6 linked regions of the Homo sapiens genome follow. The protein of the gene in region 3 purifies or fractionates together with the protein of the main gene of each other region. This does not show direct contact. Each region holds a gene or a part of one and is shown on either strand. Other genes may lie near its edges.

What was found.
Region 1: the proteins of ITM2A (region 3) and NDUFB5 purify together in Homo sapiens (affinity purification with mass spectrometry; 2 studies listed by BioGRID and IntAct, with this or other methods). This does not show direct contact.
Region 2: the proteins of ITM2A (region 3) and ATP7B purify together in Homo sapiens (affinity purification with mass spectrometry; 2 studies listed by BioGRID and IntAct, with this or other methods). This does not show direct contact.
Region 4: the proteins of ITM2A (region 3) and SLC67A1 purify together in Homo sapiens (affinity purification with mass spectrometry; one large-scale study listed by BioGRID and IntAct). This does not show direct contact.
Region 5: the proteins of ITM2A (region 3) and SPG7 purify together in Homo sapiens (affinity purification with mass spectrometry; one large-scale study listed by BioGRID and IntAct). This does not show direct contact.
Region 6: the proteins of ITM2A (region 3) and DNAJC16 purify together in Homo sapiens (affinity purification with mass spectrometry; 2 studies listed by BioGRID and IntAct, with this or other methods). This does not show direct contact.

What each region holds. Positions count from the first base shown.
Region 1 is NC_000003.12:179,614,018-179,619,348, forward strand, and holds part of NDUFB5 (NADH dehydrogenase [ubiquinone] 1 beta subcomplex subunit 5, mitochondrial isoform 1 precursor), read left to right. Parts: intron 1-757; exon of another isoform or gene 758-861; intron 862-953; coding exon 954-1,042; intron 1,043-1,965; coding exon 1,966-2,032; intron 2,033-2,965; coding exon 2,966-3,027; intron 3,028-4,397; coding exon 4,398-4,504; intron 4,505-5,331.
Region 2 is NC_000013.11:51,941,473-51,945,876, reverse strand, and holds part of ATP7B (copper-transporting ATPase 2), read left to right. Parts: intron 1-1,585; coding exon 1,586-1,768; intron 1,769-3,322; coding exon 3,323-3,491; intron 3,492-4,404. UniProt on the Homo sapiens protein: Copper ion transmembrane transporter involved in the export of copper out of the cells. It is involved in copper homeostasis in the liver, where it ensures the efflux of copper from hepatocytes into the bile in response to copper overload.
Region 3 is NC_000023.11:79,359,884-79,362,109, reverse strand, and holds the end of ITM2A (integral membrane protein 2A), read left to right. Parts: intron 1-630; coding exon 631-781; intron 782-932; coding exon 933-1,021; 3' UTR 1,022-1,726; downstream 1,727-2,226.
Region 4 is NC_000011.10:2,922,369-2,927,434, forward strand, and holds the end of SLC67A1 (solute carrier family 67 member A1), read left to right. Parts: intron 1-67; coding exon 68-188; intron 189-2,641; coding exon 2,642-2,829; 3' UTR 2,830-2,878; downstream 2,879-5,066. UniProt on the Homo sapiens protein: May act as a transporter of organic cations based on a proton efflux antiport mechanism. May play a role in the transport of chloroquine and quinidine-related compounds in kidney. Plays a role in the regulation of lipid metabolism.
Region 5 is NC_000016.10:89,514,192-89,519,522, forward strand, and holds part of SPG7 (mitochondrial inner membrane m-AAA protease component paraplegin isoform 1 precursor), read left to right. Parts: intron 1-5,331. UniProt on the Homo sapiens protein: Catalytic component of the m-AAA protease, a protease that plays a key role in proteostasis of inner mitochondrial membrane proteins, and which is essential for axonal and neuron development.
Region 6 is NC_000001.11:15,556,785-15,562,115, forward strand, and holds part of DNAJC16 (dnaJ homolog subfamily C member 16 isoform 1 precursor), read left to right. Parts: intron 1-2,741; coding exon 2,742-2,872; intron 2,873-5,331. UniProt on the Homo sapiens protein: Plays an important role in regulating the size of autophagosomes during the formation process.

The sequences.
Region 1 (5,331 bases), on a different chromosome or scaffold from region 3:
ATTCCTTTAATGGGAAATTAAAGTTTTTTATTCTACAGTGACTCACATGCAAAATATCCTTGAGAGTAGTTACACAGTGAAAAGATAGGAACCTTCAGTTTCTAAGTAACAGCTAGATCCTTTCCTGTTCCCAGTGGAAAGGGCTTGGAATGCCTCTAGTGATCCTTGCAGACCTTCAAGAGGAAGAATATAAAAAGAGGATCCAGAAGTGAAATTTTGCCTCAGTTTACTTCCAGCAAGGCTTGATTAAATTCTGTCAGGGGGAGACTTGAAGAGGATATTCTTAATCAGCAATGGTTTACCACGTGATTTTATCAAGATATTTTAGAGTGTGTAGTTTGATAACAAGTTCTAATTCCTGCTGGTGATTTGTTGAGTAAATACGGCTGGTCCTTTCCATCTATTTTGCAGCATAATAATACATATAATACAGATAATGTGTCATGTGAAATGGCATAATGGAATAATTTAAATTAAATGTATTTCTTTTGCAGCATTAGCAAATATTTGTTGCAGAGGAGACACAGATGAGCAGCTCATTAAGTACCTAACCTCCCTGCCTGCTATTGAAACAAATTAAAATGATTATTTAGATACTTTAACTTTGAATTAAAATGAGGAAAGTTATGCTTTAGAACAGTAGATCCATCTTTGTTTAAAGATACCCTATCTGACCTGGCCTTATTACTCAAATAAGACATTTTAAAATCTTAACTCATATTAAACATCTAAGAATGTATATTTTCTTTTTGTTTCATGTCAGATGGGTAATGTGCCTACCTCATAACAAGGTTTGAGGGAGGCACATCTCACACCTGAGTGTGAAAACCCAGTCATCCTGCTTATGAGCTACAAAAGGATCCTTGTATTTTTTTATAATCTGATTTTAACTCAGAATATAACAGTATACCCATATGAACCTTGTATAAAACAGGGTAATTCAATATTCCCAGCTCCTGTTCGACACAGTGGAGACCATGGGAAAAGACTATTTGTCATCAGACCTTCTAGATTCTATGACAGGCGTTTTTTGAAGTTATTGGTAAGTTTAAATTTTTTGTTGAATTAAAGTCTTTGCATGTAACAGGGAAAAAATTTTTGCCTCTTTAGAAAACATCTTTCATTTTATGAAATATTTTATTTTGTAAATTTATATTTCTTTCTGTAGAAGATACTGAGACTGTAAAGTCTGATTTGTTATTGAATTTCTCTTTAAATTAGTGAAGCTTTCCTTCTTCACAAAAGGATTTACACTAAATGGAGGTAAAACTTGAACCATTCCTTTCTTCTGAAGATTATGGCGTTTCGAAATAGAATCTGTGTTCCTATAACTAAAATATTCTTTAAATTACCAAAGAACTTGTTGAAAGACTTGCTTAAATAAAGGAGCTACATTATTTTGGGATATGATTTTATATTTATATGTTGTTCAGGAACATTTATTTCAGAGAGTAACAGGGATCTATAGTGCAATCTTAATTTAGCAATAATATAATTACATTGCTTATTTAGAATGCTGACTATATTTCTGTCTCAAGGCTCTATACGAACAAAGTAGAGGCTTAGAAAATGGGAGATTGTCTGGACCATCTGCCACGGTAGATAAAGCTCTGAATCATCATTTGAGTACTGACCTTAAAACTTTCTCTTGCCCTTCCGTTGTGTTTAATGACCTTTTTCATCTCCTTGGTTGAGCCCTTACTTTTCTTGTTATGACCAGCTCAAATCCTATTTAGTGGTAGAAATCACCCTGATGCTTTTAGACTTTTGTTCTTAACATATTATTTTCTTTCATGGCATTGCTTTACCAAAAAGTAAAATCACAGAAATCAATAATTTGGTACTGTATGCCCAATTTGGCAAGTTTATTTTATAAGAAATATGAGGAAATCATATCATGAGGATGATTTGTGTGTGGGGAGAGTTACGAAATGGTCATGAGAAACACTTTTTTTTTTATCTTAGAGATTCTACATTGCATTGACTGGGATTCCAGTAGCAATTTTCATAACTCTGGTGAATGTATTCATTGGTAAGTCACTTCCATCCCCTGCCAGCACCACCAGATTGGAAAAATTTTTAAACATATGTACATTAATATAAAAAAGAAATTATGGATATTGTAATGAAAAGCTCTTTAAATAATTAAGCATAAGCATGGCAGTTTATCTTAAAATAACCAAATCTCAATCTGAACTAAGAATTTTTTAATCCATCCTAGAACATATAAAACTATAATCCTCGGCCAGGCACAGTGGCTCACGCCTGTAATCCCAGCACTTTGGGAGGCCGAGGCGGGCAGATCATGAGGTCAGGGGTTCGAGACCAGCCTGGCTGACATAGTGAAACCCCGTCTCTACTAAAAATACAAAAAACTAGCTGGGCGTGGTGGCAGGCGCCTGTAATCCCAGCTACTCGGGAGGCTGAGGCAGGAGAATGGCTTGAACCCAGGAGGTGGAGGTTGCAGTGAGCTGAGATGGCGCCATCGCACTCCAGCCCGGGCAACAGAGTGAGACTCTGTCCCCCCCCCAAAAAAAAACTATAATCCTCTTACAAAGACTGAAAGTGTCAATGACAGTAAACATTAGATTTTCGTGGGAAATTTTGTTCAAAGTACTTCTAACACCTTGAATCCTAAAATGTTTTGTATCATAGGTATAGGGAAGACCAGAAGGAATAATATGTCTTTTATTATATCTTGTTACAGTATAGAAAAACAAAATGAGAAACTCATGGAATACCTATAAATAATGCCTTACACAGAGAGATGTCTAAAAATGTCTAACAAATGAATTGATTTTCAACCAGATTAAAGTGAATTAAAAATACTACATATCTTCATTGGTACAAATTTTTTAAAGAATCCTTTAAAACCACAAGAAGTTGGTTTCTTACTTTAATGGTGAATAATTAATTTTATAAACTCCTCATGCTAAAGTTAAACATAACCATTTTTTCTTATTAGGTCAAGCTGAACTAGCAGAAATTCCAGAAGGCTATGTCCCAGAACACTGGGAATATTATAAGGTTTGTATAGGACATTGACAATTACATACTGTTACATGCCTTGTCAACGCACTAGTTAATGTCTTAATTCAGCAATTATGATATAGTCAGGTTTTTTGTTTTGTTTTTTTTGAGACAGCATCTCGCTCTGTTGCCCAGGCTGGAGTGCAGTGGCGCGATTTCAGCTCACTGCAACTTCTGCCTCCCGCATTCAAGCGATTCTCATGCCTCAGTCTCCCACGTCGCTGGGATCACAGGTGTGTGCTGCCACTCCTGGCTAATTTTTGTATTTTTAGTAGAGACAGGATTTCACCATGTTGGCCAGGCTTTTCTGGAACTCCTGGCCTCAAGTGATCCACCCACCTCAGCCTCCCAAAGTCCTGGGATTAAATGTGTGAGCCACTGTGACCAGCCATGATAGAGTTTTATATTTCATTTTTTATATCAAGCAGATACATTTTTTTGCATACTTTTTATAAACAACGAATTTTGGTACTTCATTTTTAAAAAAATCATTTTAAGCTTTACAATTTTTTAAAGAATGATTGCAGTGTGTTCTCAGCCTAACAGAGTAACATAATTTATCCTAAGTTCAATGCCTTAGGAGAGACTTCACCAATGTTAATGCTAGCTGTCATTTATTGAGCACCTACTATGTAACAGGTACTGTGCTGAGTGTTTTACAAATATTTATTATTTCATCCCATGTAAAATGTACTATTATTATTCCCTCTTTGTAGATGAAGAAAGTGAGGCTAAAAGAGTTAAGTGACCTGTCTAGATGGGGTCACTATTTCAACCCGGGCAACTTTGACTCCAGAGCCTGAACTGTTGGTCATTATACCATACTGCCACTGCTACCAAAATCCAAAATTAATTTTGTTACTTGTTTTAACAAGTGTTATTGTGAGCCTTGAATGGAGTATATCCCATCATGTTTTATTATCTGAATGAATTATATTTTAAATACAAATCTTAAACCATTAAATCTTAAGGCAGACCTTACACTTAGTTTGTTTATGCTAACTGGTGCAAAGAGCTCCATTTTTGAATTACCAAAACCTGGGTTTGTCTTCTGAATCTGCCACCTAAGATACTCAGCATAGTGTAATGGAAAAGAGTACACAGCTTTGGAGTCAGACAGACCTGGTTTGAGTCCAGGTGCTGCCATTTATTAGCTACGTAACTTTGTGCAATTCACTTATCTTTAAAATGCGGACAAAAATAGTATCCACCTCATCTGTTAAAATTATTTTATATATAGGTATATTAGTTACATAGTAGATGTTACTGGTTTATCTAACTGAAATGATCATTTTAAAGAATAGTCAACTAGAAAAGCAAAGTATTATTCAGAAATGGACTAATATTAAACGAATTTTCTCTTGTAGCATCCCATATCAAGATGGATTGCCCGTAATTTCTATGATAGTCCTGAAAAGATATATGAAAGAACAATGGCCGTCCTTCAGATTGAAGCTGAAAAGGCTGAATTACGGTAGGAAAAACGAGGGGGTAGGTGGGAAAGAAAATCTTCCTAAGGTAGCAAACCACCAGAAAAAATTAATAAAACTATGAATATTTCAGCACTATAGGATACTTTATGTAAAAGGATAAAGATACGTCCAGATGCAGTGGCTCACACCTGTAATCCCAGCACTTTGGGAGGCTACAGAAATTAGCCGGGCGTGGTGGTACGTGCCTGTAATCCCAGCTACTCAAGAGGCTGAGGCAGAAGAATCACTTCAACCTAGGAGGCAGAGGTTGCAGTGAGCCAAGACCATGCCACTGCACTGCAGCCTGGGTGGCAGTGTGAGACTCCGTCTCCAAAGGAAAAAAAAAATGGATAAAGATAGAATTAGCTTGTTTGGAGTGAAAACTATAAACTGGTGACAAGGAGACTATTAGGAGATATGTGTCAGATTAAAGAGTTCTTTTTTAAATTTTTGAATTTTTTTTTAGAGTGGAAGTCTTGCTCTGTTGCCCCAGCTGGGAAGCAGATGGATGGGTATATCCATCCAGTGAAATATATAATGTGGCCATTAAAAAGAAAGGGATATATGCTGTTATGGAAAGCTATGTGGATTTTCTTTCTTATACATTATATTTTATATACATATTAAAAAGCTAGACACATATATTTTTTCCCCTCTCTTATGGTGCTGAGTGCCTGTTTTTTTTTTTTTTTTTTTAATTATACTTTAAGTTTTAGGGTACATGTGCACAACATGCAGGTTAGTTATGTATACATGTGCCGTGTTGGTGTGCTGCACCCATTAACTCATTATTTAACATTAGGTATATCTCCTAATGCTATCCCTCCCC
Region 2 (4,404 bases), on a different chromosome or scaffold from region 3:
ACCCTGGGGAGTGAAGAGTGAGTGACGGTGTTTGTGAAGAGTCTTCCTTTTGCCCAACTTACTAACCTCTGGCCTTCCACACTTTCACCTATTTAATCAGTATTTGCTGGGCACTCACTGCGTGTGAGCCCTGCACTGGGTTCTGGCGATGGTCATGGTTTCCAGCCGCCAAGGAGCCCACCAGGGGGAAAGACAGACAGTGAAAAAGTAAATAGCAAAGCTGACTGAGTATTACGAGATACTGAGTATTGACTGGTGGTGCTTGACGTCCTGGGGACACTTGAACAGGGGCCAATCCTAGACTTGGGGTGCTCGACTCAGGGACAAGGGTGCTGCAGGTGGTCAGGGAAGCGAATACGAACGTTCATCTGAGACCTTACTGTTGAGTGAGAGCTGGACAACGGAGCTGGGGAAGAGTGTTCCAAAATGGGGACAGAAGGTGGAAAGCACCTGTGGAGGTGGAACTTCCCCTCCCCGCGGTATCCCCAGCATCTAACCTGAGACATCAAGTGCATTCAGAAGTTATCTGTTGAATGAGCAAATGAGGAACTGGAAGAAAATCATTGAGAGAGAGGAACCAGAGATGAGGCCGTTGAGGGAGGGGCCAGAATCCAAAGGCTGAAGATTTAGTAAAGTGTTCTGAACGTTAGCCTAGAAGCCACGTAGGGGATGGCATACCCACGTGATGTGACTGGATCGTGTGTTGGGAAGATCATTCCGGCTGCAGTGTTAAGGTTGCGCTGAAAGCTGGCAAGAATCCCTGGAGGAAGATGAGTTAAGTGTGTTGAAGGAAGGAAGGCCACCGCTCAGCATCAGAAACAAAAAGCTGAATTATTGTTTGCTTGTAAGGGAGAACCCTGCTTGTGGGACATGGTCTGAGAAGAGCAACCTGCTGGCCTTAAATGGGTAAAATTATACACTTCAGGAATTACTGGACTTTCAGAAGCAGGGCTCAGGGCTCGACTGGCCCTGGTCATGGAAGTGCAGGTACCTGAATGTAGCTGCTGCCCATATCTGAGCCCAGAGGTGTGGGGACTCTGCAGACTGCCATTGACTAAGTGTGACCAACTTAAAACTGGCTCTGGGGGTTTGTTTGTCATTATGGCCATAGAATAGTCCTTTCCTTTCTTGAACTCAGAGTGTGAGGACTCTATTCCCAGTAGCTTTTGCACTTAGGCAGGCAAAAGGAAGCTGAGGTTGGGCTCGGCGGATGGCAGTGGACAGGGAGGCAGGTGTCCCTCAGGGTCCTGACTCCTGACCTGATGTGGGGGAGTATGTGGATGGTGTCACTGTCTGGGGGACAGTGCTGTGCCATCTCCTGTACAGCCGACTGAGGGTTTCTGGCTTTGCCTGGTCAAGGTCAAGCCTCAGTGTGGCTGGTTTGACTGGACACATAGGGAAACAGTTTCTTTGCAGTGGGAGTTGTTGAACCCTGAGATTGAACGACAGAGGATCACGTTAGGAAGCTGTGCAGGTGTCTTGTTTCCTGTCTGAGGCAGGTTGGGTGAAGTTCTGCCTCAGGAGTGTGACTATGGAAGCCCCTCCATCTGTATTGTGGTCAGTGAGTTGTGGTTGTTTTTGGCAGATAAAGACTGTGATGTTTGACAAGACTGGCACCATTACCCATGGCGTCCCCAGGGTCATGCGGGTGCTCCTGCTGGGGGATGTGGCCACACTGCCCCTCAGGAAGGTTCTGGCTGTGGTGGGGACTGCGGAGGCCAGCAGTGAACACCCCTTGGGCGTGGCAGTCACCAAATACTGTAAAGAGGTACGTGGACTTGGGCGTGGCCCTGCCCTCCCCGCCAATGCTCTTTTATTCCTCACCATGTCCTTCTCTCCTAGCTGCCCTCGAGGAGCCTTCTCTGTGTGGTCTGGAAAACCACTTAGAGGGCCCTTCTGCAGCAGGCGGAGATATAGGGCTCACAGTCAGCCCTTGCCACAGTTCCAGGTTATCACAAAGGGAGTTCAGTGTCACAGGCATTTGCTGAACATCACCAGGCGCCAGGCTCAGGAGAACAACAGGAGTGGGATATGAACTCTACCCTTTGGGAGCTCACGGTCTTGGGGAGTACGGGCAGTCTGGAAACTCAGTGCTTTGACAGTGCTTAGTGCAAGGGGACACAAACATGAAATGGGAGTACTGGGGTGGAAGGGAGAAATCTACTCCCCTGGGAGCACCTGGGACAGAGAGGAACCAGCAGAGGTGAGCCAGAGTGCCCAGCAGGTTCCTGGCACTTCGTGGAGAAGCATTGCCTTCTTTTGGTCTCTCCACAGGAAAGGTTCTATTTTGTTTTCTCTTAATTTCAGTCTGAATATAGGGGCAGCAGAACGCGTCACACAGAATATTGCCCTGACAACTTTTAAACAGCCTGAGCAATACTGTTAGCAGTAAATGTAGAAAGGTGACATCATTGCCTTGAAAAACAATTGACAACTCTTCCTGATCAGGGGCTCTTCCAGAAACCTCATTTCTAGTTTTGTCCTTCATGTAGGGTCAGACAGCCCACTCTTTCTCACCTCACCCTTCTGACATTTCAGGGAGAATCTTGCTCACCCTCAGTCATCCTTTATTTGTTGTGTGGTCTGGAAAACCGCTTAGAAGGGTCCTCTGCAGCAAGTGGAGATGAGGGGCTCACAGTCAGCCCTTGCCACAGTTCTAGGTTGTCATAAAGTGAGGTCGGTGTCACAGCCATTTGCTGAACATCACCAGGCGTCAGGCTCAGGAGAACAACAGAAGTGGGATGTGAACTCTACCCTTTGGGAGCTCACAGCCTGGGGGAGGACGGGCAGTCCAGAAACCCCAGCCATTCCTTTACCCTGCCACCTTGTCCCCTCCTCCTCCAGGGTCTGATATACAGGCAGTTATCTCTTGATAGTCTCAAAGAGCTTTGTTAACACTACTTATTCCATTGTTTTTAATGAAATTATTTGCAACATAAAATTCACATCTCCCTCTCTTTGGCATCTGCAGTCCTCTTTAATTTGAGGTGTTTGATATGAGTTGCCTTTTTCCTTTCCAGTCGGTAACCTGTTCACTGTCATGAGGCACCCACCCAGGGAAGGATTTTAGGCTGTTTAAAATAGTCTCATTCAACTTACAGCTATAATATCTTTACCAAAGGAGGGAGAAATAATTACAAGTTACTAGTCACTATCTTAACCTTTCCTATCTGTTCCACCTCCCTCCCCTCCTTTCTCTCAGTTCCCGCTTTCCGCTGCTCTCTTGCCACCTTCACCCTGTGTCCCTGTCCTGCCTGCCCCTCCCTTTCACTTCACCCCTCTTGGCTTACAGTTTCCTCTTCCTCTCTTTCCACCTTCCCAGGAACTTGGAACAGAGACCTTGGGATACTGCACGGACTTCCAGGCAGTGCCAGGCTGTGGAATTGGGTGCAAAGTCAGCAACGTGGAAGGCATCCTGGCCCACAGTGAGCGCCCTTTGAGTGCACCGGCCAGTCACCTGAATGAGGCTGGCAGCCTTCCCGCAGAAAAAGGTATTGCTGGCTTTTGTCTCTGCAGCTGGTTAAAAGTAGAGGTGGGTCAAACCACAGAGAGCACCACGCCCAGCAGTGATTGCCTCTGCTGTGCGGCAGACGGTTCATGGCTAAGGCACCCAAGCCTGCCTCCCCACACCCAGGAAAGTTTCTCTTATGTTCTTGGGTGCGTCTAAATTTTGTTGCTTATGGCTGCCTTAAATTCATAGAGCATTGTTTAGCTGACCCATGATTTTGATTCTCCTCTTTCTTATCCCATATCGGTCTTGCTTCTCATAAGCTACAGAGTAGACAGACGGGAATTCCACTTTCGTTCTTCCTGTTTCCATTCTGTATGGTAGAATTCTGGTATTTACAAAGCAGGCAGAAAAAGTCAGGGAAAGCAGAGGGAAATGTCTGCCCAAGCCAGGAAGGGACACTGCTTGGAGGGACAGCTGCTTTTGAAGAATGGCCTTTTTTATTCTCAAGGTAGCTTGCCAGCCACCAGAATAAAGGGTGGAAAACACTCAAAATCTGTGACTAGTGTTTTTCCTAAGTGTTGGTAGTGAAATTGTGGCTTAGATTGTGTGGTTAGAAGCCATCCACCACCTTCCAGCCTTTAAAACCCCAGGATGGCCTTTCCATGAGAGCTTCCAGAGCCTGGCCGTTCAGTGACACCTCAGCTAGCAGCACACGCTGTTAGAAAGTGATAGGTGAGAGGTGCATTAGCCTCGGGAGTTACAGTTTTAAACATTTCATGTAGACGTGTCTGATTATTTGTTGATTCACCTGGGGTTGTTGATACCAAGCAGTAATGAATGTAGTCAACACTTGCTTTGTGTGCTGGGCAAATACCTGAGTGCTTCTAATCCCTGCAGAAAAAGAATCAGTGGATACTTCTAAGACAAAGACGGACATTGCCTTATGTTTAATA
Region 3 (2,226 bases):
TGCTGTGGTGATTTCTCAGACCTAGACAGAAATACTATTAGACCCAGCAATCGCATTACTGGGTGTATGCCCAAAGAAATATAAATAATTTTATTATAAAGACACATGCACAAGTATGTTCATTGCAGCAATATTTATAATAGCAAAGACATGGTATCAGCCTAAATGTCCATCAATGATAGAGTGGATAAAGAAAATGCGATACATACACACCATGGTATAGTATGCAGCCAAAAAAAAAAAAAAATCACAAAAAAAAAACAAGATCATGTCCTTTGCAGAGACATGGATAAAGCTGGAGGCCATTATCCTTACAAACTAACACAGCAACAGAAAACCAAATACCGTATGTTCTCACTTAAGTGAGAGCCAAATGCAAAGAACACATGGTCACATAGAGGGGAATAACACACACTGGGGCCTTTCAGAGGGTGGAAGATGGGGGAAGGGACAGGATCAGGAAAAATAACCAGTAGGTACTAGGCTTAATACCTGGGTGATTAAATAATCTCTACAACAAACCCCATGACACAACTTTACTTAAGTAACAAACTTGCACTTTTACTCCTGAACTTCAAAGTTAAAAAGGAAAAAGAATTTCTCATTTCAATCTTTGCTTTTGATTTTTAGAGTGGCAGATATCTGCCTCAAACTTATGTGGTTCGAGAAGACCTAGTTGCTGTGGAGGAAATTCGTGATGTTAGTAACCTTGGCATCTTTATTTACCAACTTTGCAATAACAGAAAGTCCTTCCGCCTTCGTCGCAGAGACCTCTTGCTGGGTAAGTAACTAATGTATTCCTTCCTTCACCCTGTGTTACACAGTGGAAGAAAGTGGAGGTAGAATACAGGAAAAAGTGGGGAACAAGTCTGGATATATTTTCATTTCCACAAAAATTTCAAAAGCCACTTTTTTTGCACATTTCCTTACAGGTTTCAACAAACGTGCCATTGATAAATGCTGGAAGATTAGACACTTCCCCAACGAATTTATTGTTGAGACCAAGATCTGTCAAGAGTAAGAGGCAACAGATAGAGTGTCCTTGGTAATAAGAAGTCAGAGATTTACAATATGACTTTAACATTAAGGTTTATGGGATACTCAAGATATTTACTCATGCATTTACTCTATTGCTTATGCTTTAAAAAAAGGAAAAAAAAAAACTACTAACCACTGCAAGCTCTTGTCAAATTTTAGTTTAATTGGCATTGCTTGTTTTTTGAAACTGAAATTACATGAGTTTCATTTTTTCTTTGAATTTATAGGGTTTAGATTTCTGAAAGCAGCATGAATATATCACCTAACATCCTGACAATAAATTCCATCCGTTGTTTTTTTTGTTTGTTTGTTTTTTCTTTTCCTTTAAGTAAGCTCTTTATTCATCTTATGGTGGAGCAATTTTAAAATTTGAAATATTTTAAATTGTTTTTGAACTTTTTGTGTAAAATATATCAGATCTCAACATTGTTGGTTTCTTTTGTTTTTCATTTTGTACAACTTTCTTGAATTTAGAAATTACATCTTTGCAGTTCTGTTAGGTGCTCTGTAATTAACCTGACTTATATGTGAACAATTTTCATGAGACAGTCATTTTTAACTAATGCAGTGATTCTTTCTCACTACTATCTGTATTGTGGAATGCACAAAATTGTGTAGGTGCTGAATGCTGTAAGGAGTTTAGGTTGTATGAATTCTACAACCCTATAATAAATTTTACTCTATACAACCACTGTTTCTTTTATTTCATCACTTGAGATATAGTCAATGTGAATAATTAATATTACTTATTTAGCTTTTGGTGTACCTGTAACAGATCTAAAATTATGAGGCCAACTTTGCCCCCATTCCCACCTACACATATTTATATGTTATATTTTCATATTTCACTCCCTTTTGACAGTATATTAATTACTCTTTTATAAACATCCCATAATTGGCTTATCATGTAAATTCAACTATTTATTTAGAGGCTTCAGGCGCATAGCACTTTAAAATCTTTTGAAGTGTTTTCTTTCTCATCAAATTAAACAACTATACACAGCTATAATGGATCACTAAGGACTAACCTTGGATAAGATGTTGATAGCTTTTAAGAACTTCAAATGCTGTGATCATTACTCATGTATCTAAGAGTCTAAACTTCATACCAAGGGGACATGAGTACTATAAACTATTTCCCTTGTATTAGGTGAAAAATCGCTCCTGATATCCCTTATTACCTGCTGG
Region 4 (5,066 bases), on a different chromosome or scaffold from region 3:
AAGACCCCAGAGAGGAGCCTGGTCCCGTGAGGCCCCCACTCAGCTCGGCCCCCGCCTGCCGTCCCAGGCCTGGATGTCCAGCGTCTTCCACTTCTGCCTCCTGGTGCCCGGCCTGGTGTTCAGCCTCTGCACCCTCAACGTGGTCACCGACAGCATGCTGATCAAGGCTGTCTCCACCTCGGACACAGGTGAGTGTGGCCAGCGAGTGGAGCAGCCTCCTCCAGGAAGCCCTAGGAGCTACCCGGTGGGGATGGGGTGGGCAGCCTAGGGTCTGTGTGGGGTGGGTAGGGTGGGGGGCCTGGGGTCTGTGTGGGTTGAGTGGAGTGGGTGGGGTGGGGGCTTGGGGTCTGTGTGGGATGAGTAAGGTGGGGAGCCTGGGTCTTGCATGAGACTCCTGCCCTACCACCTAGCCCAGCTGGGGGCAGGCCAGGGGCCTGGGAGGGGGCTGCCCGCAGGTGGCAGTTGGCTTGGCCCTGAGAAGCACCTGAGGACTTTGCCTGCCAGGCCTGGAGGCCCCGGGGACTTCTGGGCCCTCCCCCAGCACGGGGAGTGGGGCACACAAGTGCTCAGGAGCTTCCTGAATGAATGAGGGAGTGAATGAATGCATACCAGTAATTAAATCCAGGAATCCCCTAGGCCACTGCAGGGGACACAGGTCCCCTAGACATAGATTCCCCCAGTCCCCACTTCCGACCCAGCTTTCTTTCTTGAGGCCGAAGAGAGCCGCTCATGCAGACTGGGGGTGTCCTGGGCCCGATGTTATCCAGGCTCCTGCCCCACCCCAGGCACAGTGTGGGTACACACTGGCCAGTGCAGGGGGCTCCTGTGGGCTGGTTGAGGTCAAAGGACTCAGGAGTCCTTTGGAGTACTGGAGATTCTTCCAGGCCTCCCCAGCAGCAGATCCAGAAAGCTCAGGGCACACATCTGACACTCCATCCACCTGCCTGTCTGGGAGGCAGCAGATCCAGAAACTCAGGGCACACATCTGACACTCCATCCACCTGCCTGTCTGGGAGGCAGCAGATCCAGAAACTCAGGGCACACATCTGACACTCCATCCACCTGCCTGTCTGGGAGGCAGCAGATCCAGAAACTCAGGGCACACATCTGACACTCCATCCACCTGCCTGTCTGGGAGGCAGCAGACCAAGGTCTAGAGGCCCGGATGTGGCCGGGCTGCAAAGGGCAGGCCTATTCTCAGGGCTGCCTGGGAACCTCCAAGGCCTTCGGGGACTGTGACTCCATGGTGCATGGGCTGATGCAGGCTGAGCCAGGAGGGCTTCCTGGAGGAGGTTGGGCAGCACTTTGGAGAGGCCAGGAGGATGGCACAGGAGAGGAAGGCCTGGGGAGATGAGGACCCGGCCTGGCTGGGAAGAGGCCCCTGGAGGCTGAGGGAGACCAGGCCCAGGCCATTGGGCCACGTCATGCGCAGACACCACCCCTGGCCTGGTAGGAGCCAGCATCTGGTTCCCAGCAGCAGCTTGGAAACCCAGCGACAGAAGGGGCAGGAACTGCACCCTGAGTCTGCAGAAGAGGCTGCTCTTAATGGTCCTCCATGCTGGGCCCTGAGCCCAGGTGGGGCCTGGCCAGCTCCTCATCACAGCTGACCAGCCCTGGGAGTTCCAACTCCAGGAGACCTGGGCTCTGAAGTCCCTGGAGCCAGAGACCCTCTGGGCACGGGACCAGAGGCAGTGTCCTCCCACCTGGAGTCCTGGGGGGTCCTCCCGCTTGGCGAGTGCTGCCCCCCTTGTTGCCCGAGTGTTGACAACAGCCACAGATAGTGCCCACGTGCCCGTCCATGCTGCGGGTAGCTGGCCACAGGGGCGTGGAGATGCGGTGTCAGGGACAGAGCAGGCTGCTGCGCAGGTCGGGGCTGTCTGGGGAGCCTCGGAAGCCGCTCGGTCTTGCTCTGGGGACAGGAGGGGCAGGTGGAGGGGCCCTGCATGGGCTTCCAAAGCCCCTCCCAGCCCTGTGAGGGGGAGTTCCATGGAGTAGTAGGAGCTCCGCAGGGTGGGGCGGCTGGAGGAAGGGCTGATGGCCAGGAGGGGCCGTGGGATGGGGGTGTCATGCCCACTCTGAACTCAAGCCCCAACGGTGTCTCACAGGCCAGGCTTAGCCTCCCCACTGCATCACCAGCCCTCGGTGGTGGCAGGCACCCTGGGAAAGAGCCGTGAGAGCCAGCTCCCTGACAGCCTGGGCGGGAGGTTCCGGGCCCCAGGCACAGATGCCATCTCCCTTGGCAGGCCTGGCAGGGCGGGGCCTTCTGCGGTGACCTGTGGTCCCATTCCCAGGCTCCTCCTGTGCTTGGAAACTTTCTGGAGCAGGGAAGAGACTCAGCCCAATGCCCTGGGAAGCACCCTGCATGGCTGAGAGGTCCTCGGGGAACAGACCAGTGGGTAGAGAGAGCTGTGTTTGCTCCAAAGGCTGGGCGGGTGGCAGGGGGTGGGGGACTGGAGGTTAGAAGCTGGCAGGTGGAAAGGATGGGTGTTCAGGGGAGTATTTCACCAGACTATGCAAGGTGCGGACTGCGCCGTGAGGTCAGGGTGGGTCAGGAGAGATGGGAGGCCATGGCTGTGTTCAGGAAGTGGGCAGTTGGCCCAGGGAGCTGCCCAGGGCCTGACTACCCCCATGCACCCCCCAGGGACCATGCTGGGCCTCTGCGCCTCTGTACAACCACTGCTCCGAACTCTGGGACCCACGGTCGGCGGCCTCCTGTACCGCAGCTTTGGCGTCCCCGTCTTCGGCCACGTGCAGGTTGCTATCAATACCCTTGTCCTCCTGGTCCTCTGGAGGAAACCTATGCCCCAGAGGAAGGACAAAGTCCGGTGACCGCTGCCCAGACACAGACTGGCAATAAACTCCTACTAAATCCCTCCGACCTCTTCCGGCCTGGTTTCTGCAGGCTCACGCATGGTCTGCCTGCGTCCTTCAGTGAGGGATGGGGCCTCGGGCTGGAGGGCTTCCTCAAGGAGGGCGCCTACAGCTGGGCAAAGCTCTGGGGAGGACAGAACCACCCAAATTGGTTCACTGTTATTAGTACAGCCCTGAGTCCGCCCATGGAGGAGGTCCCCCTGCTGCCACACAAACAGCTCTTGCTCACATCCCAAGCAATGGCGAGCTCACTGCCCAACTCCCGCCCACAGTGTGCCTGCCCAAGAGCAGAAACAGGTTGCTTTAAAAGATCAGGGAACCTGGCTGGGCGCAGTGGCTCACGCCTGTAATCCCAGTACTTTGGGAGGCCGAGGCGGGAGGATCATGAGGTCAAGAGATCGAGACCATCCTGGCCAACATGGTGAAACCCCGGCTCTTCTAAAAATATTTTTTAAAAAATTAGCTGGGTGAGGTGGTGCACGCCTATAGTCCCAGCTACTCGGGAGGCTGAGGCAGGAGAATCGCTTGAACCCGGGAGGCGGAGGTTGCAGTGAGCCAAGATCCCATCATTGCATTCCAGCCTGGCAACAGAGCGAGACTCCATCTCAAAAAAAAAAAAAAGATCAGGGAACTGAGGCCTTCCTAGATGGAAGGAAAAATGCCCTCATTCTGCTGAACAGTCCAGCACACAGACCCAAACCCTGGTCGCAGAACTGTACCAAGGAGGCTGCCAGCCACCCGAACCCCAGAACCGCACCAGACACTGCCAGCCACCCGAACCCCAGAACCGCACCAGACACTGCCAGCCACCCGAACCCCAGAACCGCACCAGACACTGCCAGCCACCCGAACCCCAGAACCGCACCAGACAGTGCCAGCCACCCGAACCCCAGAACCGCACCAGACACTGCCAGCCACCCGAACCCCAGAACCGCACCAGACAGTGCCAGCCACCCGAACCCCAGAACCGCACCAGACACTGCCAGCCACCCGAACCCCAGAACCGCACCAGACACTGCCAGCCACCCGAACCCCAGAACCGCACCAGACACTGCCAGCCACCCGAACCCCAGAACCGTACCAGACACTGCCAGCCACCCGAACCCCAGAACCGTACCAGACACTGCCAGCCACCCGAACCCCAGAACCGTACCAGACACTGCCAGCCACCCGAATCCCAGAACTGCACCAGACACTGCCAGCCACCCGAACCCCAGAACCGCACCAGACACTGCCAGCCACATGAACCCCAGAACTCCTCTGGTGTCCCCTTATCTCAGCCTCTTCATCCTACAGCTCAGTGGCCCCCAACATTTTCCGCACCAGGGACCAGTTTTATGGAAGGCAATTTTTCCACGGATGTGGGTGGGCCAGATGAAACTGTTTCACCCCAGATCATCTGGTATTAGATTCTCATGGGGAGTGCTCAACCTTGATCCCTCTTGTGCACAGTTCACAACAAGGTTCTCGTCCCTGTGAGAATCTACTGCTGCCGCTGATCTGGCGAGAGGTGGAATTCAGGCGGTCATGCTTGCCCCGCTGCTCACCTCCTGCTGTGCGGCCCAGCTACTAACAGGCTATGGACCAGTACCCATCCATGGCCTGGGAACTGGGGGTCCCTTCTATAGCTGATTTGCTGGCCAGGCCATGTACCGTTGCCTTCCCAGCCTCCTGACCACAGCACTTCCCGACCCCTCACCCCCACCCCCTGGTCCTGGGCTCTGGGGAGGAGAACTGGGCATGAGGAGGCCAGCCCAGCCGCTGTGACCGATTGACCCATCTGGAGAGGACAGGCTTTCCACAGCCTCAGCGAGGGTCTGCAGCTGCCCCTGAGACCATGAAGGCCGCCCCTCCTCTCCTCGGGCTGCTTTTAAAAGAAGCTGTTGAAACATGGACTCCCCAAACCTTAGAATTCCACTGTCCTCAGAATTTGAGGAATTCCAAAATTCCTCAAACAAGAAGTGGCCTCAGTGAGCCAAGGGCCATCCACCCTCTTCGCCTAAAGCTCAGGCCGGATCATGCCTATGCTTGAAGCACCCAGGGGCAAGGGCTCTCCTCTTGACCTTGGATATCCATCCAGGTGAGGCTCTGGTGGGCCAGCCAGGAGGCCCAGGAGCCCAGCCAGGCAGCGTCCTTGGCTGCTGTTTTCTGCTTTTTGCAGGAGCCCCTCCCCGATCTGCACAGGGGCTTCACAA
Region 5 (5,331 bases), on a different chromosome or scaffold from region 3:
AGCCACTCAGAACTATCTTCTAAAAGACTTCTGAATCTTCATACAAAATTGTTCTGAATTGATTTCAGGGCTCTTTCCCTGTATACTTCAACATTTCAATAAAGTGTGTCCTTTGACTTTTTTTTTTTTTTTTTTTTTTTTTTTTTTTTGCCAGAATCTCACTCTGTTGCCCCGGCTGGAGTGCAGTGGTGCGATCTCAGCTCAATGCAACCTCCCCCTCCCGGGTTCAAGCAATTCTCCTGCCTCAGCCTCCGAAGTAGCTGGGATTACAGGTGCTCACCACCACACCCTGCTAATTTTTTGTTTTTTGTTCGTTTGTTTGTTTTTGAGACGGAGTCTCGCTCTGTCGCCCAGGCTGGAGTGCAGTGGCACAATCTCGGCTCACTGCAAGCTCCACTTCCTGGGTTCATGCCATTCTCCTGCCTCAGCCTCCCTAGTAGCTGGGACTACAGGCACCCGCCACCGCACCCGGCTAATTTTTTTGTTTTATTAGAGACTGGGTTTCACCATGTTAGCCAGGATGGTCTCGATCTCCTGACCTTGTGATCTGCTCACCTTGGCCTCCCAAAGTTCTAGGATTACAGGCGTGAGCCACCGCGTCAGGCCCTCTTTTTGTATAGTAGAGATGAGGTTTTGTCTTGTTGGCCAGGCTGGTCTCAAACTCCTGACCTCAGGTGATTCACCCACCTTGGCCTCCCAAAGTGCTGAGATTACAGGTGTGAACCACCGTGCCTGGCCTTGACCTTTTTTTTTTTTTTTTTTTGAGACGGAGTCTCGCTCTGTCGCCTGGGCTGGAGTGCAGTGGTGTGATCTCAGCTCACTGCAAGCTCCGTCTCCCAGGTTCACGCCATTCTCCTGCCTTAGCCTCCCGAGTAGCTGGGACTACAGGTGCCCGCCACCATACCCGGCTCATTTTTTGTATTTTTAGTAGAGACTCGGTTTCACCGTGTTAGCCAGGATGGTCTCAATCTCCTGACCTCGTGATCTGCGTGCCTCAGCCTCCCAAAGTGCTGGGATTACAGGAGTGGGCCACCGCACCCAGCCCTGGACCTTTTTTTTTTTTAACTTTTATTTTGTATTTATTTATTTATTTTTGAAACGGAGTCTCGCTCTGTTGCCCAGACTGGAGTCCAGTGGTGCGATGTCGGCTCAGTGCAACCCCTGCCTCCTGAGTTCAAGCGATTCTCCTGCCTCAGCCTCCTGAGTAGCTGGGATTACAGGCATGCACCACCATGCCCAGCTAATTTTTGTATTTTCAGTAGATACAGGGTTTTGCCATGTTGGCCAGACTGGTCTTGAACTCCTGACCTCGTGATCTCCCCACTTCGGCCTCCCAAAGTGCTGGGATTACAGGTGTGAGCCACCACGCCCGGCTGACCTTTTTATAAAAAAAAATTTGCTGGGTAGGTGCGGTGGCTCACACCTGTAATCTGAGCACTTTGGGAGGCCAAGGTGGGATGATCACTTGAGCCCAGGAGTTTAAGACCCTCATTTCTATTATTATTATTACTATTATTATTATTATTTTTTTTTTTGAGATGGGGTCTCGCTCTGTCGCCAGGCTAGAGTGCAATGGCACGATCTCGGCTCACTGCAACCTCTGCTTCCTGGGTTCAGGCGATTCTCCTGCCTCAGCCTCTCGAGTAGCTGGGACTACAGGCGTGCGCCACCACGCCCAGCTAATTTTTTGTATTTTTAGCAGAGACAGGGTTTCACCATGTTGGCAAGGATGGTCTCAAACTCCCGATGTCAGGCGATCTGCCCATCTTGGCCTTCCAAAGTGCTGGGATTACAGGTGTGAGCCACCGTGCCCAGCCTGGAGTTTCACTCTTGTTTCCCAGGCTAGAGTGCAATGGCGTAATTTCAGATCACTGGAACCTCTGCCTCCTGGGTTCCAGTGATTCTCCTGCCTCAACCTCACGAATAGCTGGGATCACAGGCATGCAACACCAAGCCCAGCTAATTTTTGTAGTTTTGGTAGAGACCTGGTTTGGCCACGTTGGTCAGGCTAGTCTCAAACTTCTCACCTCAGGTGATCCACTCGCCTTGGTCTCCGAAAGTGCTGGGATTACAGGTGTGAGCCACCACGCCCGGCCGTTCGTTTTTTTAATAAAAGAAGAAAGTTAGATCACTTGGGGCCAGGAGTTCGAGACCAGCCTGGCTAACATGGTGAAACCCCTTGTCTACTAAAAATACCAAAAAAAAAAAAAATTAGCCAGGTGTGGTGTACGTGCTTGTAATCCCAGCTACTCCGGAGTCTGAGGCGTGAGCATCGTTTGAACCTGGTAGGCAGAGGTTGCAGGGAGCTGAGATTGTGCCATTGCACTTCAGCCTGGATAATAGAGTGAGACCTTTCTGTCTCAAACATAAAAAATTAAGAAAGAAAAGGCCGGGCGTGGTGGCTCATGCCTGTCATCCCAGCACTTTGGGAGGCCAAGGCGAGCAGATCACAAGGTCAGGAGATCGAGACCATTTTAGCTAACACGGTGAAACCCTGTCTCTACTAAAAATACAAAAAAAAAAAAAAATTAGGCGTGGTGGTGGGCACCTGTAACCCCAGCTAGTCGGGAGGCTGAGGCAGGAGAATGGCGTGAACCCAAGAGGCGAAGCTTGCAGTGAGCCGAGATCGCGCCACTGCACTCCAGCCTGGGCGACACAGCAAGACTCTGTCTCAAAAAAAAAAATTAAGAAAGAAAAAAGCGACGGCGAGACTCTTGTCTCAAAAAAAAAGAAAAAAGAAAAAAGTCGTAAGAGAAAATATATTTCCTATTTATGCAGTGGAAGCGGATCACCATAAAGAGCTTCATCCTCATGGCCTTCACCTTGAGTGGGCTGAGGAGGAGGACGAGGGGCTGGTCTTGTTGTCTTGGGTAGCAGGGGTGGAAGAAAATCCACGTGTCCGTGATCATACATAGCTCACTCCTGTGTTGCTGAAGGGTCACCTGTCATAGAAGAGGGAAGAATTGTGTGGCCTGTGCGGATTCTGCATTCAGCCTTGTGTGTTGTGTTACGGTTAACCAGGGACGTGTGCCCCACTAATAACTCTGATTCCTGGAAGGAATGGCATGGCAGCCTCCGTTGTCATGGTTCCTGGAGGGAATGGCATGGCAGCCTCCGTTGTCATGGTTCCTGGAAGGAATGGCATGGCAGCCTCCGTTGTCATGGTTCCTGGAAGGAATGGCATGGCAGCCTCCGTTGCCATGGCAAGGCAAAGCCATGGCAGCTTCCTGGTTATCACTCCTGGCATGTGGTAGGTGCTTGTCCAGTGAAATCCTAGTCGTTGCTGCATTGGCAGGTGCCCTGGCGTGAGGAAGGGCAGGCAGTCACCATGCCCTTTGCTCTCCTGGGCCCTGCATCTGCTTATGGATGAGGCTGCGTGTAGCTGACATGCGTGTCTCTCCTGCATCTGAGTAATTGTCGTCGTCTTTTTTTTTTTTTTTTTTTTGAGATGGAGCTTCGCTCTTGTTGCCGAAGTTGGAGTGCAATGCCACGATCTCGGCTCATTGCAAACTCCACCTCGTGGGTTCAAGCAGTTCTCCTGCCTCAGCCTCCCGAGTAACTGGGACTAAAGGTGCCCGCAACCATGCCCGGCTAATTTTTTGTGTTTTTAGTAGAGACGGAGTTTCACCATGTGAGCTAGGATGATCTCGATCTCCTGACGTTGTGGTCTGCCCACCTCGGCCTCCCAAAGTGCTGGGATTATAGGCGTGAGCCACCACGCCCGGCCAAGTGATTGTTTTATGTTTATTCTGTTTTGGGTTGAACTATAGTTTGCTTGGAGAAAATAATGTCTGTTAAATTTGCGTTAGAGGATAATTGTTTACTGAGCCAAATAATCTTTCTTGTGAGAACCTATTCTGGGTTTCCCCTGGGCCCTCTGCTGTGGTTTCGGCGGGAGTTGGTTTGTGTGGATTTTCAGGACTGCTGACTTGATCAGACAGGCACAACACAGTCCCGGCCCTCAGGCAGGCCTTCTCCCTGGTCTGATGCTGAACTGCATGGCGTCTGTTCAGATGAAGATTCTTTTGCCACCTCCTTAAATGAAAGAACGATACTGAATGTGGCTTAGAAACAGCTTTGCCAGCCGTGCAGAATGATTGTAAGTAGTGGTTGCCCGAAAAGTATTTGCTTGGAATACCACTCACTGATAACACTGGTGAACCTGGAAGGAATTATACGGAGTGAAAAAAGGCACCACTCACTGATAACACGAATGAACCTGGAAGGAATTATACGGAGTGAAAAAAGGCTCCGCTCACTGATAACGCGGGTGAACCTGGAAGGAATTACACGGAGTGAAAAAAGACCCTGCTCACTGGTAAGGCGGGTGAACCCAGAAGGAATTACACAGAGTGGAAAAAAGACTCCGCTCACTGATAACGCGGGTGAACCCAGAAGGAATTACACGGAGTGGAAAAAAGGCCCCGCTCACTGATAACGCGGGTGAACCCAGAAGGAATTATACGGAGTGAAAAAAGGCCGAGCTGAAAGATCACATGCCGTATGATTTTTTTTTTATACAGCATTCTCTAAAGACAAAAATTAAAGAGATGGAACACAGATTCGTGGTTGCTAGGGGTTAAGGATGGGGGAAGGAGACAGCCGGAGGGAGCCTGTGGTTGGATTGCCTCAGCTGCGGTGGGCACACACTGCGCGTGTGTCATGGGATGACCCCGGGGAGCTTGGTGGACCGTCGTGGTGGGAGAGCCTGGCTGTGATACTGTTCATAGTTTTGTGAGATGGAACCCCTGGAAGCAGGGGGACAAGGTATTGCTCTGCGTCATTTATTTTTATTTATTTATTTTTTTTTGAGATGGGGTCTGGCTCTGTCACCCAGGATGGAGTGCAGTGGCTCGATCTCTGCTCACTGCAACCTCCACCTCCCGGGTTCAAGCGATTCTCCTGCCTCAGCCTCCTGAGTAGCTGGGATTACAGGCGCGTGCCACCACACCCAGCTAATTTTGTTTGTTTTTAGTAGAGATGGGGTTTCAGTATGTTGGTCAGGCTGGTCTCGAACTCCTGACCTCATCATCTGCCTGCCTCGGTCCCCACAAAGTGCTGGGATTACAGGTGTGAGCCACTGCGCCCAGCCTGCTCTGTGCCATTTCTTACAACTACATGTGAAGGTACAGTTACTTCACGGTTGCTAACTAGAACTAGAAAACTAGAAAAAAAGCAGTTGCTAACATTTTTTTTTTCTTTTTTTGAGACGGAATTTCGCTCTTGTTGCCCAGCCTGGAGTGCAGTGGCGCGATCTCAGCTCACCGCAACCTCCGCCTCCCGGGTTCAAGCCATTCTGTTGCCTTAGCTTCCCGAGTAGCTGGGATTACA
Region 6 (5,331 bases), on a different chromosome or scaffold from region 3:
GCTTTCAGCATTTCCCCAATAAGTGTGTTTGCAGAAGGCTTTTAAAATGTGGATACCCTTTATCAGGTTAAAGAAGGTCCTTCTACTCCTTGTTGACTAAAAGTTCTAACCACAATTGGTATGATTTTTATCAAATACTTTTTCTACATCCATTAGATTATTCTGATTTTTCTTCTTTAATCTATATTGTGCTAACTCATATTAATTCATTCTCTAATGTTAAACCTAACTTGCACTCATGAAATAAATCCAACAAGATTATGATTTCTATTATGCTTTCAATATATTGCTGGATTCCATTTGCTAACATTTTGCTTAGGACTTTGACATTCATGTTCAGAAATGAGATTGACTTCTAACTTTTCCTTATCGTGATACCCATGTGTTGCTTTTTCTCTTCTCAGGAAGACTTTATGTGAGATTGTCTTCCTTGAAAGTTTGATTGAAAGCATCTGTAATGCCATTTGGGCCTTGAGCTTGGGTTTCTGGGTTTCGCTTTAAGGAAAGATTTTTGACTACTGATTATTTAGGTTTTCTGTTTTAACTTCTGCATTGTAGGTAGTGATTCCTTCTTGTCATCTTTGAGAATGATTATTTTATGCCTTCTCTTTTGTTTTCATGGTTGGTTTTACCAGAGGCTTGTCGATTGTATTAGCTTTTTCAAAGAACCAGTTTTGTCTTTGTTAATTCTTCTTCTTATATTAATATATTCATTTCTTGTTTCATTAATTTCTATTTTTATCTGTATTATTTCCTTTCTACTTTTATATTTTTGCTGTTTTTGACTTGACAGATGTTTATTTCATTAACTTCTTTTCTATTATGTTAATTGTAAAATTCCCCTTCAAGTACTACTTTATATGTATCTCAGAGTTCTTATAAATAGTATTTTTCATCAGTCATTAAAGTTCAAAATATTTTCTAATATCTGATAGGCGTTCTTGTTTTGGTTTTTTTTTTTTCTTTTTTAGTCAGTCTTGCTCTGTCACCCAGGCTGGAGTGTAGTGATGTCATCATGGCTCACTGCAGCCTTGGCCTCCTATGCTCAAGTGATCCTCACCCTTCAACCTCCCAAGTAGCTGGGACTACAGGCACATGCCACCATGCCCAGCTAACAACTTTTTTTTTCCTTTTTTTTCTTTTATGAGACAGGGTTTCACTCCCGTTGCCCAGGCTGGTATGCTCTCCCAGCCTCAAGCAGTCCTCCTGCCTCAGCCTCCTGAGTAGCTGGGACTAAGGCCACGCCTGGCTAATTTTTGTACTTTTAGTAGAGACAGGGTTTCACTATGTTGCACAGGCTGGTCTTGAACTCCTGACCTCAAGTGATCCACCTGCCTTGACTTCCCAAAGTGCTGGGATTACAGGCATGAGCCACCATACCCAGCCCTTTTTTTTTTTTTTTTTTTTTTTTCTTGAGACAGGGTCTCAGTCTGTCACACAGGCTAGAGTCCAGTGGTGTGATCCTAGCTCACTGCAGTCTCTTAAGTCTTGGGCTCAAGCAGTCCTCCCACCTCCACCTCCCAGGTAGCTGGGATTGCAGGCATGCACCACCATCATGCCTGGCTAATGTTTTTTTATTTTTAGTAGAGACAAGATCTCATTATGTTGCCCAGGCTGGTCTCGATCTTCTAAGCTCAAGCAATCCTCCTGCTTCGGCCTCCCAAAGTTCGGGGATTATAGGAGTGAGCCACTGTGCCTGGCCTTTTGTTTGTTTGTTTTTAATTTTTTGTAGAGATGGGATCTCTCCATGTTGCACAGGCTGGTCTCTAACTCTTGGGTTCAAGGGATCCTCTTGCCTTGGCCTCCCAAAGCATTTGGGTTAGAGGAATGAGCCTCCATACCTGGCCGTGTTTCTTAATTTCCAAACATAAAGGGAAATGTTTACATTTCTGGTTTGCATTTTAAATGGAATTCTAGGTTAATTACCTTGTGGTCAGAATACCTGCTGTCAATGATTTCAATCCTTTGAAATGTGTGAAAGTTAGCAATAAAATGGTCACACGGTTTTGTAACCTGCCTTTTATACTTTGCAACATTGTTGCTTTGGGATTTATTTTTAATTGCCCAGTTCGCTACAAATCCTGAATGGAAATAATTTTGCCTAAAATTCAAAATGATTGACTTTTCGTTTTGGGTTTTTGTTTTGTTTTGTGTTTGGTTTTGTTTTGTTTTTGAGATGGAGTCTCGCTCTGTCGCCCAGGCTAAAGTGCAGTGGCGTGATCTCGGCTCACTGCAACCTCCGTCTCCCAGGTTCAACTGATTCTCTTGCCTCAGCCTTCCAAGTAGCTGGGACTACAGACACACGTCACCATGCCTGGCTAATTTCTGTATTTTTAGCAGAGACGGGGTTTCACTATGTTGGCCAGGCTGGTCTCAAACTCCTGACCTCGTGATCTACCCACCTCAGCCTCCCAAAGTTCTAGGATTTCAGATGTGAGCCACCACGTCCGGCCATGACTGACTTTTTTAATTTGTCAGCATAAAACAGTGAATAAAAATTCTCCAGTGGAAAGTGTACTTGATTTTCCCTTTGACCCGAAATAGCTGCATCATTGCTTTCAGCCCTGCATTGCTGAAATAGATCACCACATGTTTATTCGCTCAAACAGGTCTGTCTTGTTTGGTTATATTACTTTAGCCAAGGTCAGCTACGTTTTTATTAAGCTGGTAAGTAAAGAAAGCCCATCTATTTGCATTGAGAACACTGCATAAAATCTAGCTGATTCTTGGTTTTTCTCTAGGCCCGAGGTATGAAGAAGCAAATCATTGACGACTTCATCACCCGAAACAAATATCTATTGGCAGCCAGGCTCACCAGCCAGAAGTTGTTCCATGAACTCTGCCCTGTGAAACGGTCGCATCGACAGAGGAAGTAAGGACTTAAGGCTTTGCCTCTGCTTGTTATTACAATAGAAGGATCATGATTCATTTTACTATAGGGTGACTAGACATCTGCCCTGTAACATTGAGAACTTATTCTTCATTTAACAAATACTGGGCCGGGCATGGTGGCTCATGCCTGTAATCCCAGCACTTTGGGAGGCCGAGGAGGGCGGATCATCTGAGGTCCGGAGTTCAAGACCAGCCTGACCAACATGGAGAAACCCCATCTCTACTAAAAATACAAAATTAGCCGGGCATGGTGGCTTATGCCTGTAATCCCAGCTACTAGGGAGGCTGAGGCAGGAGAATCACTTGAACCTGGGAGGCAGAGGTTGCGGTGAGCCGAGATCATGCCATTGCACTCCAGCCTGGGCAACAAGAGTGAAACTCTGTCTCAAAAAAAAAAAAAAAAAAAACACTGATTAGTGACTGTGATGGTAATCATACTAATATGATGTATTAGTCCAGGGCACTTTAGCACCAAATTGTCAGATGTGCCAGCCTGTCCTAGTGGTCAGAGAAGATTTCCCTAAGATGTAACATTTCAGCTGAGACCTGAAGGATGAGCACAGTTTAGCCAGGCGTCTGGGATAGACTGGGTCACTTTACAGAAGCACAGAATATGGAAGAGTGACTGTCCCTACTAAAGCATTCCACACAGGGTGAGTCTTTGGAGGTCTTGGGAAGGAGCAAGGATAACAATTAAACAGTAGGGAAGTACAGAGTATTGAGGAAATGGATTGGTGGGAATCGGGAAGGCTAAGTTACATGTATTCAATAAAGTAGGAAGAGTTATTATACAAAGTATCTAAAAAGTCTAGAAATTCAGGGAATGTATTCATTACACCTTCTCAGGTGAATGAATCAGTAGCTTTAAATTTAGGGCTGTTTCATCTGTAAAAGGTATCTGGATATGGAAGGAAAACATATCAATCATGTAACTTGAAAATATAAAACATAATTTCCCTGTGTGTCTAGGCTTTTCAGATTCCTTTATAGTCTTAAGAGCGAAGAAAAAAATGACTTAAATATAAAAAAAGAATATCCTGGACTGTAAGGATTGTTGTTTACACAGCCTTCAAAAAATATCCCAAATCCACACACTTCTCACTTTTTTTAACCACTGCCACCCTGGAACAAGCCACCATCGTCTCCCAGCGAGACCCCCCTGGCAGCCTTCTAACTAGTCTCTCTGCTCCATTCCACTCTTGTACCCTCCAGGCAGATGTCCACACGTCAGCCAATAATGTTTGAAAATGCAAATCAGATCCAGTCACTCCCCATCCTGGGGTCTTTGCACTTGTAGTCTCTCTACCTGGGATGCTCTGACCCCATTTCCTGTCATAACAATGTCACCTTTTCAGTTGGCACTTCCCTGACCAACCTGTCTGATGGAGCCTGGCTTCTACCCACTCTGGCCTCTCTCTGTCCCCTTTTCATCTTTTTTTTTTTTTTTAATATATAGCACTTGTTGATACCTGTCATAATATATCTGTTTTCTGTCTTCCCCACTGGAATATAAGCTCCATGAGGGCAATAATATTGTCTATATTACCTGACATATACTAAGTGCTCAGTAAATATTTTTGGGAGAATGAATAGCTAAACTTTCCATTGGAACCTTGCAAAGGAAGCCGTTCAGAATGAGGCTCAGTGGCCTCTGGCCTGAGAGAGATTTGACCAGCCCTCCCTATACTGGAAGAACTAGGACAAATAGTTTCTAAAAGGCCCTGCCGGCCAGGAACAGTGGCTCACGCCTATAATCCCAGCACTTTGGGGGGCTGAGGCAGGCGGATCACTTGAGGTCAGGAGTTTGAGACCAGCCTGGCCAACATAGTGAAAACCCGTCTCTACTAAAAATACAAAAACTAGTTGGGTGAGGTGGTGCACGCCTATAATCCCAGCTACTTGGGAGGCTGAGGCAGGAGAATGGTTTGAACTCAGGAGGCGGAGTTACAGTGAGCCGAGATCACACCACTACACTCTCCAGCCTGGGCGACAGAGCAAGACTCCATCTCAAAAAATAAAATGAAAGGCCCTGCTGCATCAGAGATTCAGTGACCAACCCCTTAAATTCCTGGCAGGCACGATGGCTCATGCCAGTAATCCCAACACTTTGGGAGCCTGAGGTAGGAGGATTGTCTGAGGCCAGGAGTTCAAGACCAGCCTGGGCAATATAAACAAAACTATATATATATAGTTTTCATATATATAAAATTTCATATATATAAAATTTTAAAATTCGTAAATGTGGTAAAGAAGTTTGGTTTGGGAAAAACATCACAGATTGGGAAGAGAAACAGTTTGTTAATGACTTGGAAATCCTCCCTTAGTTGAAATGTCAGCTTTCACTGGGCACAGTGTATTCACTTCCATAAGATGAGCTCCTCGTCTTCTTCACCTTCACTTGCCATTATAGGTGCTGGCCCTGCCATCAGGGATTGGTTA